2 separate regions of the Homo sapiens genome follow, and region 2 is reported to be linked to region 1. Evidence: microRNA targets listed by miRTarBase, many of them from high-throughput screens and not tested one by one. Region 1 holds a microRNA gene; the other region holds the end of a gene's coding sequence.
What was found. The annotated mature microRNA hsa-miR-188-3p reads CUCCCACAUGCAGGGUUUGCA and lies in region 1 at 5,051-5,071, shown strand. An mRNA with a match to its seed (bases 2 to 7 or 8) in the 3' UTR can be bound and repressed. Matches are read on the target gene's strand: a 7mer-m8 pairs with bases 2 to 8, a 7mer-A1 pairs with bases 2 to 7 and ends in A, and an 8mer does both.

Region 2: miRTarBase lists HAS2 as a target of hsa-miR-188-3p. The part of its 3' UTR that is shown has no 7-base or 8-base seed match.

What each region holds. Positions count from the first base shown.
Region 1 is chrX:49,998,506-50,005,629 of GRCh38, forward strand. It overlaps MIR188 (microRNA 188), which reads left to right and starts at 4,998; the gene lies at 4,998-5,083. All of the region lies in intron 3 of CLCN5 (chloride voltage-gated channel 5), which reads left to right. It overlaps MIR532 (microRNA 532), which reads left to right and starts at 4,643; the gene lies at 4,643-4,733.
Region 2 is chr8:121,608,078-121,615,194 of GRCh38, forward strand. It overlaps HAS2 (hyaluronan synthase 2), which reads right to left. Exons shown (of 4, transcript NM_005328.3): 4 at 4,039-6,961. The coding sequence ends at 6,032. Among named protein-coding and RNA genes, the nearest start is that of HAS2, 30 kb to the right of the region's middle.

The DNA of each region.
Region 1 (7,124 bases):
TACCTCAGGCCTGCAGCACGCCTGCTTTCTGACCTGCTTGGTACGTTTCGGGCCCAAAGTGTCAGAGTGTGGATTTTCACAATCCCCCTCCCACATTTTAAGTTTGCAGGCAAATGAACCTTAATGTGCCTTCTCTACTTCCCTCCCTCCCTCCTTCCCTCTCACACTCAGAGTGCCAGAAAGAAGAACCTGCTGACTCCACCACTCGTCTATATGTCTTGACTGTAGGAGAGAGAGCTTTCCTGATCCCATTCCTATTTGTGGAGTCTGTGGGAGAGCAAGCCATCTTGCCTTCTTGTTATTTCTCTCCTTCACCCATGCATGACACTGCAAAGGGTTTGCTGGCTTGAGTCTTCTACACACACACACACAGTCTGAGACATCTGATGTGTTCACCCTCCCATTTGCCTTGAATGGTAGTGTGTGTGTTTTTTAATTCCACTCTTATATACACAACTTACAGGAGAGTGAATTTTCTAGTGCCACCCCCCCGCCATAGGCTATGTGCCCCCTTGCTTTTTTTCACCCAGCATCCAGAGTCGAGATTGTTTAGTGCCCTTCTTACAGGCCTTGTTGGCAAGAGTGAGCATTATTATGGGACACCCTCCCCACCCCCGACACAGATGATGCACACAGGAGTACAAGATGATGAGGCTCCTGATCACCCCACGCCTCCTTAGACCTACGTCTGTGTACATCCTCTGTCTGTGAGGGAGAGAGGAGGTGACTCCTTACCTGTTTGTCTCACATGCCTCACACATTGGGGTGTGAGCTGTCTCAGTTCCCTCCCACACATGAGGTTTACAGATGTGCAAGCTTTCTGAGCTGTGCCCTGCCTCTTAAACCCAGCATGCCTTCTTAGTGCTCTTCCCACAAGCATGCATTATTGGAGAGTGGACTTTGCTTTTTTTTTTTTTTTTTAACTTGCTGAGTTGAAGTATTTGAAGGATAGTGGGCCTAAAAAAACTGGCTCTGGCACAGGCACATGTGCCTTCACATGTGTACACACATGTACACCACGAGGGAGATGAATCCTTCGGCCTGTTAGTGTTTGCTTTGTATGGTAGATGTGTTGAGGAATAAAAAAAATAATCTGCCCCTTTTAGCTGAGGGGAAAAATAAGTTCAGAAATGGCAGTTGATCCATTAAGGATGGTGGGCAGTTTCTAAGCTATACTCTGTTGGCCAGCAAGTTTAAAGACTAAAGAAAAAGTGTCAGTGTGAACACATATTTGGCTCTTTTCACTATAGTTGGTGTTGTCAAGCAGCTGATACCTGCGGAATAGAATATGAGAATTGTGCTACAACGAATACATTTGCTTTCTTAGTCTGTACATTAAAAGCCCCTTTTTTTACTTGTTTTAAAGGTTGTGGAGCATTGTTTGAATGACAGTTATTTACATTGTAAAAATAGTATGAAATTTATGATATTTTAAAAATTTGCTAGGATTCATCAGTGAGCATTCTTCCTATATCTGCCCTGTCTCTGCTCTCCACTCCCCCAGCTCTCCTGCCCCATGCAGGGGTGCAAGCCTCTCAAGCTATCCCATCCCACCTTGACCACACAGAACTACAGTGAGCTTTTTATTTTAAATATGCTTCCCCAAACCTGTTGGACTGTGGGTTTCCCCATCCGCCTCCTGCTTGCAGCCTCTCTCTCTAATCCTGCTTTTCTCTTTCTTTCTCTCATGTGCATACACTCATGATATGCATGTAAGGGAGACACCTGAGTTGCCCCATTGCATCCAGCATCGCAGGACTGTGAGCCTTCTATTGCTGCCACTCTCCTACCCCACGCATGGCTTAACCTAAAATAAAACTGACCTCCCAATTGGGAGGTTATTACAACCTCCCAATGCACACACTGGCTGGGCCACAGTGGCGTGTGAACCACTGTGTCAGCCACCTTATTACCCCTTTTCTGTGCATGCCCCCACACACATTTATGATAGGAGCTTGAGCCTCCTTATTCTCCATCCTTGCTCTTTCTCTCTTCCTTTTCCTCCCTCATCTCACATGTGTGTGCCAAGGATGTGCCAGAAAGTGGGTCCTTATCATTTTCAGTTCTCATACACATGTGGGTACACACAGCTTTAGGGTTCAGTGGTTAGGCCCACTGTCTTGGTAGTCAGATTACCTGTGGTAGAATCCTGGCGTGATCTGTAATGAGCTTTGTGATCCTAGACAAGTGACTTATCTTGTGTCTCAATTTCCACAACATGAAAATGAGATAACTAATTGTGCCAACCATATAGGTTTGTAATAAGCACTGAAGGAGGCGACGCATGTATTGGGATTAACATGTAATAAACTTCCTTAATCCATATGCTTTGCCTGGAGCAACTGATTCTCCATAGAAGAAAACTCACACCTAAGCTGCTTGGTCCCATTATTTGAAAATGTTTGGGAAGTACTGCCTTGGATGACTGTTTCATAATTCTTTCCTTTCCTCAAATCTGCAGTGTCACCTCCCTTCCTTCCTCCTCACTCTCAGCTGCTGACTTTGCTTTCTTCTTCCTTGAGAAAATGGAAGCCATCAGAAGGGACCCTCTGAAGTTCCTCTGACCTCTCCTCCATTACCTGCACATGTCCCTAAGTGTCAGCTCCTCCCCATTATGGTAGATGAATTACTGGCACATGTAGCCAGGACCAGTTCCTCCACTTGTATACTAGATTTCAACCCCTGTCACCTATTCAGTGACAGTGCTCCTGCAATTGATCCCCCTCTCCTTACTGCATCATCAACTGTTCTTTGTATACTGGAGTGTTTGTACCAATATCTAGATGTGCTGCCACATATCCTGTCTAAAAATAATTTTAAAAATTAAAAAGCACTACCTTCTCTACCCAAAAAGCTCCTCCAGTTTCTACTCATTTCTCTGTTCCTCTTTACAGAAAAAAAAAAAATTTTTTTGAAGGAGCTGATTGTACTCCATCTCTACTTCTATTTCTCCCATTTACTCTTTTTTTTAAATGTATACTTTAAGTTCTAGGGTACATGTGCACAACATGCAGGTTTGTTACATATGCATACATGTGCCATGTTGGTGTGCTGCACCCGTTAACTTGTCATTTACATTAGGTATATCTCCTAATGCTATCCCTCCCCCCTCCCCCCACCCCATGACAGGCCCCGATGTGTGATGTTCCCCTTCCTGTGTCCAAGTGTTCTCATTGTTCAATTCCCACCTATGAGTGAGAACATGTGGTGTTTGGTTTTCTGTCCTTGGATCCCTTCCTTACACCTTATACAAAAATTAATTCAAGATGGATTAAAGACTTAAATGTTAGTCCCATTTACTCTTGAAAACCCTCCATGTAAAACTGTAACCTGCAGCACTTAAATGACCCTGGTCAAGGTCCCCAGTGTCCTTCACATTTCCCAATTTACTGGGCAATGTTGTCATCTTACTTGACAGATCAACACACAGTTGATCACTCCCTCTGCCTTGAGACTCTACCTGCTTTCCAGGATTCCACACTCATGAGGTTGTCTTCTTACCTCACAAGCCTCTCTTTCTCAGTCTCTTGATGGTTTCTCCTCCTCTTCCTGAATTCTAAGTATTAAAGAGATATAGGGCTTAGTCTTCAGACTTCTTTTTTTTTTTTTAACTTCTCATTAGTCCTCAGCTGTTCTCATCTTGTCTTGCAACTCTAAGTACCATTTTATGTGGATGATTTCTGTGTTTGTATTTCCAGCCTGGACTTCTCTCCTGAATTCCAGATGCCTATGTCCAACTATGTACTGGACATCTGCCCCGAATGTCTAATAAGTATCTCAAAACTTTAACACATCCAAAGCTGAGGTCCTGGTTTTCCTCCCCCTCTCAAAAAGCCCTACTCCTCCCTCTGTGTTCTCCAACTCAGCAAACAGCATTTCCCAATTGCATATGCCAAGGATATGGAGAATTTTAATAAGCTAAAGGTTTTGGATTCATCTTTGACACTTTTTCCCCTCCATTCTCCAAATACAAACTGCTGTCAAATCTTGTTGGCTCTACTTTCAAAATACATGTCTAATCTGACCACACAGCCACTTCTCATACTTCTCACTTCCTCTATTATTTCCACACTAATCCAGCTTTTCCCTGGGCTGACAAGTGCAAGTTCTCTTGCGTCTGTCTGTCTGTCTGTCTCTCTGTCTCTGTCTCTGTCTCTGTCTCTCTCTCTCTCTCTCTGTGTGTGTGTGTGTGTGTGTGTGTGTGTGTGTGTGGTGTGTGTGTGGACACAAAGTGGTTGGTGGCTGAGAGCTTGAGCCTCCTTTTTTGAGTCCTCTTTCTAATGACCTGCATGCCAGATTCTAAGCTTTCTTACCATCTGTTCTCGTATGTGTGTTATTTCATCTGTAAAATAGGGATAATGATCACCTCATGGATATTTTATGAGAATAAATGAGCTATGTGTGAAAAGCACTTAAAACAGTGCTCTGCAAATGTAAATACTATACTGGTGTTAGGAATAAAAATAAAGGAAAAGAAAGAAGGAAGGAAAACAAATATGTTGTAGATAGTGAACATTTCTGAAGGTACATATGTGAATGTACACAAGCACACCTTCTCATTACAGCATGTCTGGGGCACAGTCATAGAAGTCCAAGGCATCTGGGATACGCATGCACACAGTATACAGGAGAGCAGACCTCCCGACTTGCTTTCTCTCCTCCATGCCTTGAGTGTAGGACCGTTGGCATCTTAATTACCCTCCCACACCCAAGGCTTGCAGAAGAGCGAGCCTTCTCTTCCCTCTCCAGTGCATAGGCATGAGCACATGGACAGGTACACCAAAGGGAGGTAGACCCTCTCTTACGTGCTCTGTATGTGGGGTACACTGTTAGCAGCCATCCCATCTGGATGACTGTCCTGCTTCCATGGCCACTGCTCCTAGTTTACCCATCAGCACTCCTGTGGCTATCTTGCTGCCCACTTGCACCCCCCAGGCCAGTGCCTCTTGCCTCCTAGAGCATACCCATATGTCGTGCCAAGAGAGCAAGCCCTTCCCTGCTCCCTCTCTCACATCCCTTGCATGGTGGAGGGTGAGCTTTCTGAAAACCCCTCCCACATGCAGGGTTTGCAGGATGGCGAGCCTCAGCTTTCCTTGCTCTCTTGTGCATGTGTATATACACATACGCACTCCTTCACCAAAAGAAAAACACACACCCATGTGGTGGGAAGGAGAATGACTCTCAGCCATGTCCTTTCTCCCATCTCAGTCTTACATGGATCCTGCAGGAGAGGGAGACTTCTCTTAGCTTTCTCTTGCACATGGTGCAGCCCCTCATACTCAGGGATAGGCACAGCCTAGAGAAGGAAGGGGGGTCTTTTGACCTGGTTCTGTCTTAGCGGCACCTAGAGGAGGAGAGAGAACCTTCTCAGGACTCCTGTACATGGGGCATGATGAAAAGGGAGTCTTCTAGCTAATTCTCACAAACCCAGTTTGTGAGGAAAATTGTGTCTATATCATAACCATATGCAAAGATGTAATATGCACACACATTTTGGGTTCAGAAAGTAGAATCCACTCACTGTGCCATGCCTTTCCATATGCACACTTGTTTGCTCAAGAGGGTGTGTGAAGATCTGTCTTCTTAGACACTCATGTAGATATGAGTCAGATTGTGAGTTTTCTCTGTTATCTCCCCAGACCCAGGATTTGCAGCCGATTCATTTGGTGAGCCACTCATTCATTCAGCAAATATTTATCGAGCAGCTACTGTGTGTTGGGTACTCCCCTATGCACCAGGGATACACCAGTGACCAAAAGACAAGAATCCCTGCCCTAGTGAGGGGAGGCAGGTAGTGAACAAAATAAGTAAGTAATAGATAGTGTGCCAATTGTTGATAAGTGCTCTGGAGAATAATAAGGCAGGAAAAGGGGACAAGGAGTGGGTGGGGGTAGTTACAGCATAGATGGTGGTGGAGAAGTTTCGATATCAAATAGGGTAGTCAGGAAAGGCCTACTGTGTTCTAGGAACAACAAAGAGCCATTGTGGCAGAAGCATAGGGCTGGGAAGTAGTAAGTTACAATGGAAAAAGGGAAAGCTGATAATTACTATGTATCTCTAAAATCTAAGGCCGCTTTTAAAAAAAAAATCATACCATTATCACACTTAAAAATAATTACCATCCAGGCACAGGGGCTCATGCCTGTAATCTCAGCACTTTGTGGGAGGCTAAGGTAGGCAGATCACCTGAGGTTAGGAATTCAAGACCAGCCTGGCCAACATGGTGAAACCCCGTCTCTACTAAAAATACAAAAATTAGTCAGGCCTGGTGGCAGGTGCCTGTAATCCCAGCTACTCGGGAGGCTGAGGCAGGAGAATCGCTTGAACCCGGGAGGCGGAGGTTGCAGTGAGCCAAGATCGTGCCACTGCGCTCCAGCCTGGGTGACAAGAGCGAGGCTTCATCTCAAAAAGAAAAAAAATTGCCAACAATTTTTTAATATCATCACATATCTGTTGTTCCCATTTCCACTTGTCTCAGAAATATCATAAATTAGGATCCAGATAAGGTCCATGCATTGCATTTGGTTGATATGTATCTTAAGTCCCTTTGAATTATATCTTTCCCTTCCATCTATATTTTTTCTTTCCTTATAATTTATTTGTTGGAAGAAAGTGGGCCATTCATCCTATACAGTTTTGCATAGTCTGGATTTTTGTGATCACATCCCTGTGATGTAGTTTACATGTTCCTTCTCCTTGTTTGTATTTCCTGTAAACTGATAGTTGCATCTGGAAGCCTGATCAAATTCAGGCTTAATTTTGAGGAAGGGGGAGCAGAACTACTTCCATTAAGAGGCACAAAATAACTGATGATCATCTTTCTGTGATGTTAGTTGCCACCGATGCTCAATTCTTAGAGCCGTTATTTCATTAGGGGTTGCAAAATGATGATATTCTAATCCCATTATTCTCTTGATTTATTAGCTGGAATACTTCTATAAAGAAAAACTTCCCTTCATCTGCTATTTGATCACCCAGTGTTGCCGTCTTTATAGGCAAGATAGGATAAATGTTTGGTTCTCTTTATTTATCAGTACTCAGAATAATGAGTTGGTTCACTAGCTTACTCTAAAGAGGATTTTTTAAAAAAACTATTATAATAAACTCATAGATTTAAATATATT
Region 2 (7,117 bases), not on the chromosome of region 1:
AGAAGGGCAAAGTGTGTTCAAGAGGGAGCAAAAAAATCTAGTTTAGTAGGACATGAAAAATAGGAGTAAAGGACTGCAAGGGAGAAAATAGATAATCATCAGTCTTGAATAATTTCTTACATATTTAATGCTTTTGTTGACAATGAGGTGAAGTTAAATCTTTGTATTCAGAATTGGGCCTTAGAATGATAATTTTAACAGAAATGCAAAGAATCCATTGGATGAAACAGAAATGGAGAATAGAAAGGTAGTCAGGAGGTATTTTCTTTTTCTTTTTTTTTTTTTTAGACAGAGTCTCACTCTGTGCCAGGCTGGAGTGCAGTGGCGTGATCTTGGCTCACTGCAACCTCTGCCTCCCTGGTTCAAGCGATTCTCCTGCCTCAGCCTCCCCAGTAGCTGGGACTACAGGCATATGCCACCATGCCCAGGTAATTTTTGTATTTTTAGTAGAGACGGGTTTTTGCCATGTTGGCCAGGCTTGTCTCGAACTCCTGAGCTCAGGTGATCTGCTCGCCTCGGCCTCCCAAAGTGTTGGTATTACAGGCGAGAGCCACTGCGCCCAGCCATCAGGAGGTATTTTCAACAGTTCAGGTAAGAGATTTAAAAAGTCTTAACAAGGATGAGAGATGAATTTGAATGACATGGCAAAGGTGGGATCAAATGACTATAATAACTAGCTGGTTGCGGGCTTCTTATACCAAAACAAAGCTGAAGAGAGTGCTTGGGTAATTGGCAAGAGGCGATGACCTGAGAATGTAAAGCAAGAGGCAGCCTTGGAAGAAATACAATGAATGTGGTCAGGTGCCTGGGAGAGAAATACCAGTTTATTACAAGCATGCTCAGGCCAAATCGTAATTATAAACACAATTGTTTCTGTGAGATCTTTGAAACCAAACATCATAAAGTGCCTTATTTTATGACAATGTTAGAACCCTGTCCAAAAATTCCATGGGTGTGTCATCTATCAAAAGTAATGTAAATATCTCATTCTAGTATTTCTCCCAGTTGTGTTATGGTCTTCTATCGTCCATCTTCAAATTTACTTGTTTTTTTTTTTTTTTTTTTTTTTGAGACAGTCTTGCTCTGTTGCCCAGGCTGGAGTGCAATGGCGTGAACTCGGCTCACTGCAACCTCCACCTCCTGGGTTCAAGCAATTCTCTGGCTTCAGCATCCTGAGTAGCTGGGACTACAGGCATGTGCCACCACGCCCGGCTAATTTTTGTATTTTTAGTAGAGACGGAGTTTCGCCGTGTTGGCCAAGCTGGTCTCGAACTCCTGACCTAAGGTGATCCGCCTGCCTCGGCCTCCCAAAGTGCTGGGATTACAGGCGTGAGCCACCATGCCCGGCCTTCAAATTTACTATCTATAGTCATGTCCCACTCTTGGTTAACTACAACTTCCACTTTAATTAAATGTTAATTCTGTTTAAAGGACAACATATTAAAAGCACACCACTATCGCTGTATTCATGTTCTTTTACCTGAAAAATCATTAATTCCCATCCAAGTTTGCACGTCTTTAAAGAATCAACCTAAATACCAGGCTATCTTAAAACCTGCCGTTATGAGGCTAATTGTACATGTTCACCTTCTTCTTTTTACATCCCATGCCACTCTGTATAAAGAGTATTATTCTATTTCACATCAAATCCCAGTGTAATTACCCTCTTACTTACAGTGTAAATATCCCTCTTACTCAATTGTAAGCTCTTTGAGTATAGACACAGTGTACACCACTTCATTTCTTGCCCGTGACAGGAACTTTTTTCTTTTTTTGAGACAGAGTCTCACTCTGTTGCCTAGTTTGGAGTGCAGTGGCATGATGTCCACTCATTGCAACCTCCACCTCCCGGGTTCAAGTGATTCTCGCGCCTCAGCCTCCAGAGTAGCTGGGATTACAGGCATAAGTCCCCATGCCCGGCTAATTTTTGCATATTTAGTAGAGACGGGGTTTCACCATGTTGGCCAGGCTGGTCTCGAACTCCTGACCTCAAGTGATCCACCCACCTCGGCCTCCCAAAGTGCTGGGATTGCAGGCGTGAGCCACAGTGCCCAGCCTATAACAGGTACTTAATAAACTTAGTTAAAACCAGATATCTGCCAACACCCATAAATTATATTAAAGTAGAAAAGTTCAATGGGAGAATACAATATTTGAATGAATAACTATCTTCGAAATGATATGCGGTTTGAAGGGAACAATATAAGATACTAGATTAGGGCAATGCTTCTCAAACTTTAATGTGTTTAAAAGTCACCTGGATGGGAATCTTATTAAACAGATTCTCCAGAGAATTTGATTCAGTAGGCCTGGGGTAAAGCTACGAACTTGCATTTCTAATAAATTCCCACATGCTGCTGATGCTGCCGGACAGTGGATGAAATACTGAGTAGCATTAGTTGAAGGGGCAAGCTTGATGTCATAATGTCTGGACCTAAATTCCACCACTACAATGTACTGGCTTTATAATATTAAGTTACCAAATTTCTTTAAACTTCACTCAGCTTCCTCGCTTAAAATGGTAATAATAATGGAACTTCTTGGGACTGACATAATAACTAATCTATAAAGCATGCTTCTGGTAGTGCCTAAAACATAGTATGTGCTCAAAAATTAGGTGTCAGTGTGAGTACTTAATGGTACAGATAAGTCCACAGATTTCTAAAGAGCAGGGGTCATTAACTATGGGCTGCAGGATATATCTGGCTTGTTGCCTGTTTTGGTAATGCTGGTGAATTAAGAATAGTTTTGTGGGGGTTTTTTTTGTTTTGTTTTGTTTTGTTTTGTTTTTGAGATAAGTTCTCATTCTTGTTGCCGAGACTGCAGTGCAGTACTGCAAACACAGCTCACTGTAGCCTCCTCGACCTCTGGGGCTAAAGCAATCCTCCCACTTCAGCCTTCTGAGTAGCTGGGACCACAGGCAACGCCCACACCTGGCTAATTAAAAAAAAAAATTGTTTGTAGAGACTGGGTCCTGCCATGTTGCCCAGGCTAGTCTCAAAATCCTGGCCTCAAGCAATCCTCCCACACTGCTGGAGTTACAGGCGTGTGTTACCATGCCCAGTCCTAAAATGTATACTTTAAGGCTCTTTACATTAAAAGACTGTCACCAAGTGACTTCATCAGTGAATTATTAAGTTTAGAACCATCAATATTTCTGGATTATCTGACAATAATGTTCAGTGGCTATAGTTTATAATGTAGCAGTACAAAAGTAATGAAGGATTCTTAGAAAACAGATAACACAAAAGAACTGGGAAATAAGATGAATTTGAGGGATAAGAGGTAAAATGAGATAATTACTATCAAAGTTCCTCTAATCAGAAAATGCTGTTAGATGTCCCAACCCACTTTTTAAAAAGATGATATTTATTGTCTTTTTTTTCCTGATTATAAAAACATATTTATAGTATTTGGAAAATACAAAAACATATACAGAATATAAATCAGTCATTCCCAGTATTAGAGATAATCATGTTTAAACATCTTCACTTTTATAAAATTGGGATGTTACTGTACAAAATGGTTATTTTTTTAATGTGACATTTCTCCAAAATCCACGTGTTCTCTGAGAACATTGTGTTCAATAGCTAATGATGTCCCATTTTTTAGAAATGCCATGATTTATTTAATTATTGCCCTCATCATTTGATTTTAGGTTAAGGTTTTATTATTTCTGAATAATGCTGAAATAAACAAGCTTGCTTATCATATTTCTGCATATCTTTGATTTTTTTTCCTGCTATAAGTTACTATAATTTAAAAAATTGTCTAAATTTGTGCTGCTTTCAAGGGAAGCAGAAGAAAAAGATTATAGACAAGGGTAATGATAATTAAGCAGTCTCTCTCCTCTCTCTGTGGTTTTCCAGATTTTCAAACCACACCAGTTTTAGGGATTTCTACCTAATAATAAGTAACATTAAATGACATATTCTTTTTTACCAACCATCATTTTTTTTAAAACCCCCCCTTCCTAAATTCATACCATTATAATCAGGAAAACAAAGTTCCCCCTTCCCTTAGAAAAAAAGGCAATAATCTTATCAAAAATATTTTATTTACAAAAAATTAATTATACTATACATCCTATACTGGAAATACATTGAATAATTGCTAAAATAAATACAGGCAATTAATTCAACTTTTTATAAGAATGAGAGAATTTGACATTTGAATGTTATCAAAGCTTAACTTAGAACATAAATAGTTAAAAAGGCAAACTCAAGTTTTCATCTCATTTATTGGCATGGTGTGTTTTGTTTTCCACAAGCTCTCCAATCAGTGAGAGTCTTGAGTCTCAGATGTACCTTTTTGTACTCTGAAGGTAGGATGTGCAGCTTTTTCTTAGGCAGGATAGATGTAACATAGATGACTGCATAAAAAAGAGGCAGAAAGGCAGGAAGCCCATTTTTTTTTTAACACTTCTCCATGTGTCTCTGCCTCACCATAATGCTGTTTATTCAATTATTCATATATTCCGATTGTGTTTTCAACACAGGTCTACACAGCACCAGCTACAAGGCAAGGTCAATCGTGTAAAAAATAAAACTGGATAATGGAGGCCTTGCAGTAACTAAATTAGCCAAGTTCAGAGTATGTGGTTCAACAATTTTTATATGTGCCAATCATTGATATACTTATTAAACCTTGATGTCACTTCTACTGTGTAGACATTTTTATACAGGTCCAGAACAGGAAATAGGAAGTGATGATCTGTGTAATTCAGAAAAACAAAATTCCTCATTTGAAAGTAAAAGAGGATAGATACTTGGTGATTCTATCTGCCAATTTTGAATTTATATGTTTTATAATTTATCCAACTCACCCGTGTAAACATTATACTAACATGTAAAGTGAACTGGCAAGTTGAAAAAAAAAAAAAAGACAGGCAAAACATGTTCAATGTGTAGGTAGGACCCAGTAAATTCAGGCCACAGAACAAAACCTTTGATAAACTGCATTGTATGTGTCCAAAATTATACAGATAATTTCTCCACTTTCCACTTGACTTGTTCTGGGAAAACACTGCCAGAATCTCCAAAGATTATTCATCTTTGATACCCATGTTTTGTCCAGTGCTGGATGCCTACTGTTTTCTTTCAAAGACTATCATTCCCTTTTTTTTAAATCTTAATGAAAAAATTGCACTACCTTTGGCCTTGATTTTCAACGATTTTTTTTTTAGGTACACACGAAAGTGTGTATTTTTACTTCCAAAGTGTGATAGGTATATTGGCCTTTTCTAAAAGAAATAAAAACAAAAAGTTAAAATATTGAAAGTTTAAATACTTCTTTCACAGAAATAAACTATTCAATTTTAAAAGGTAGAGAGAGAGAAACATTTTATTCTTTCTATCATGAACATCAGTCAACCAAGCTTCACATTTTGGGCAGGATTTTTTAAGTATAAATTTTTTAAGAACTTATTTTATTTTAAAAAAGGAAGAACAGGTTTATTTTGGCAGAAAAGTAAAATAGAGAATATGCAAAATTTGTCTTTAAGATTGGCATACAAAATTTAAAAACACAGTACAATTATATCAAAATACAGCACAGCCAACGGCCTTTAAAACTTCCTTTGGCATTTCATTTGGTAAAGTTAAAAAGAAAATCCTTCCTAAAAAAAAAAAATTATCATCTATCAAAACAGTCCATAAGTTAGGTTGTATAGGTTGAAAGAACTTTTCCTTGAGTTTCCAAAATCCTTTTCTTCCATGATAACCCACATAAAGCATGGCTAGTGAGGTATATAGGGCAAAACACTTTCAGGCGGATGCACAGTAAGGAAAAAGTGCATAAACAAAGAATTCATCCCATTTTCATAGAAATAACAGGTTAAATCTGAGTTTCTTCTTGTTGATGTATTGTTTTACTTTGGCAGAATGAAAATAAACCCATATAAATGTCTTTGTTCAAGTCCCAGCAGCAGTGATATGTCTCCTTTGGTGGCATTATCTGATGCCACAATACTGTACAGCCCCTAGAGGAACTAAGGTGTTGTGTGTGACTGCAAACGTCAAAACATGGAAGATCATACATCAAGCACCATGTCATATTGTTGTCCCTTCTTCCGCCTGCCACACTTATTGATGAGAACTACATACAGCGTCAAAAGCATGACCCAATAGCATGCATAGAGCAACGTTCCAACAATTAGAACTGTCTGTTTGGATTCTGAAAATGGCCTTTTAGACTCCTTATAAATGGTGAAAATCACACCACCCAGGAGGATTGTAAACCAAACTGATACTGGAATGAGTCCTATGAAATTAACAACAATGGTTTTCCTTCCTGATGTGCCCCACCCAGCTTTGTTTATTGTTGCAATTGCAAACATCTTGGCGGGAAGTAAACTCGACATGTATAACACTGAGTAGAGAGACATGAAGACCATGACGATATTTCCTCTAAGGCAGCTGGCAAAAGATGATTTTATGAGACCTACTAGCTGGACAGTTAACAAGAAGAGGAGAATGTTCCAAATTTTACCCCGGTAGAAGAGCTGGATTACTGTGGCAATGAGAAAGAAAGGAAAGAATCCAGTGATAATCGCTTCGTAGGTCATCCACAAGTGATGTTTGTGAAACCACATTGCATTGTACAGCCATTCTCGGAAGTAGGACTTGCTCCAACGGGTCTGCTGGTTTAGCCATCTGAGATATTCTATAGGTGTTTCAGTAAGGCACTTAGATCGAGCTGTGTATTTTGTTGCATAGCCCAGGCTCAGCACCCGGTTCGTGAGATGCCTGTCATCACCAAAGCTACATTGGTTGCCCATAAATTCTTGATTGTACCAATCTTCCACAAACTCATGCAACAAGGAGTTTCTGTACATTCCCAGAGGTCCACTAATGCACTGAACACACCCAAAATAAGACTGACAGGCCCTTTCTATATTAAAAGCCATCCAATATCTTACACTGCTGAGGAATGAGATCCAGGAATCGTACTTGTTTAAAATCTGCAAGAAGAAAAACATAAGTAATAGGTAAGCTTTAGCTAAAAATTCCAGCAAAACCTGTTCCATCCTGAGGTTACTACCTGGAGTAATATTTGTTATTTTATCCTCCCATTTTGGCTTCGTTCCTCTTTTTGGCGTGGTTATTTTATGTTTTCT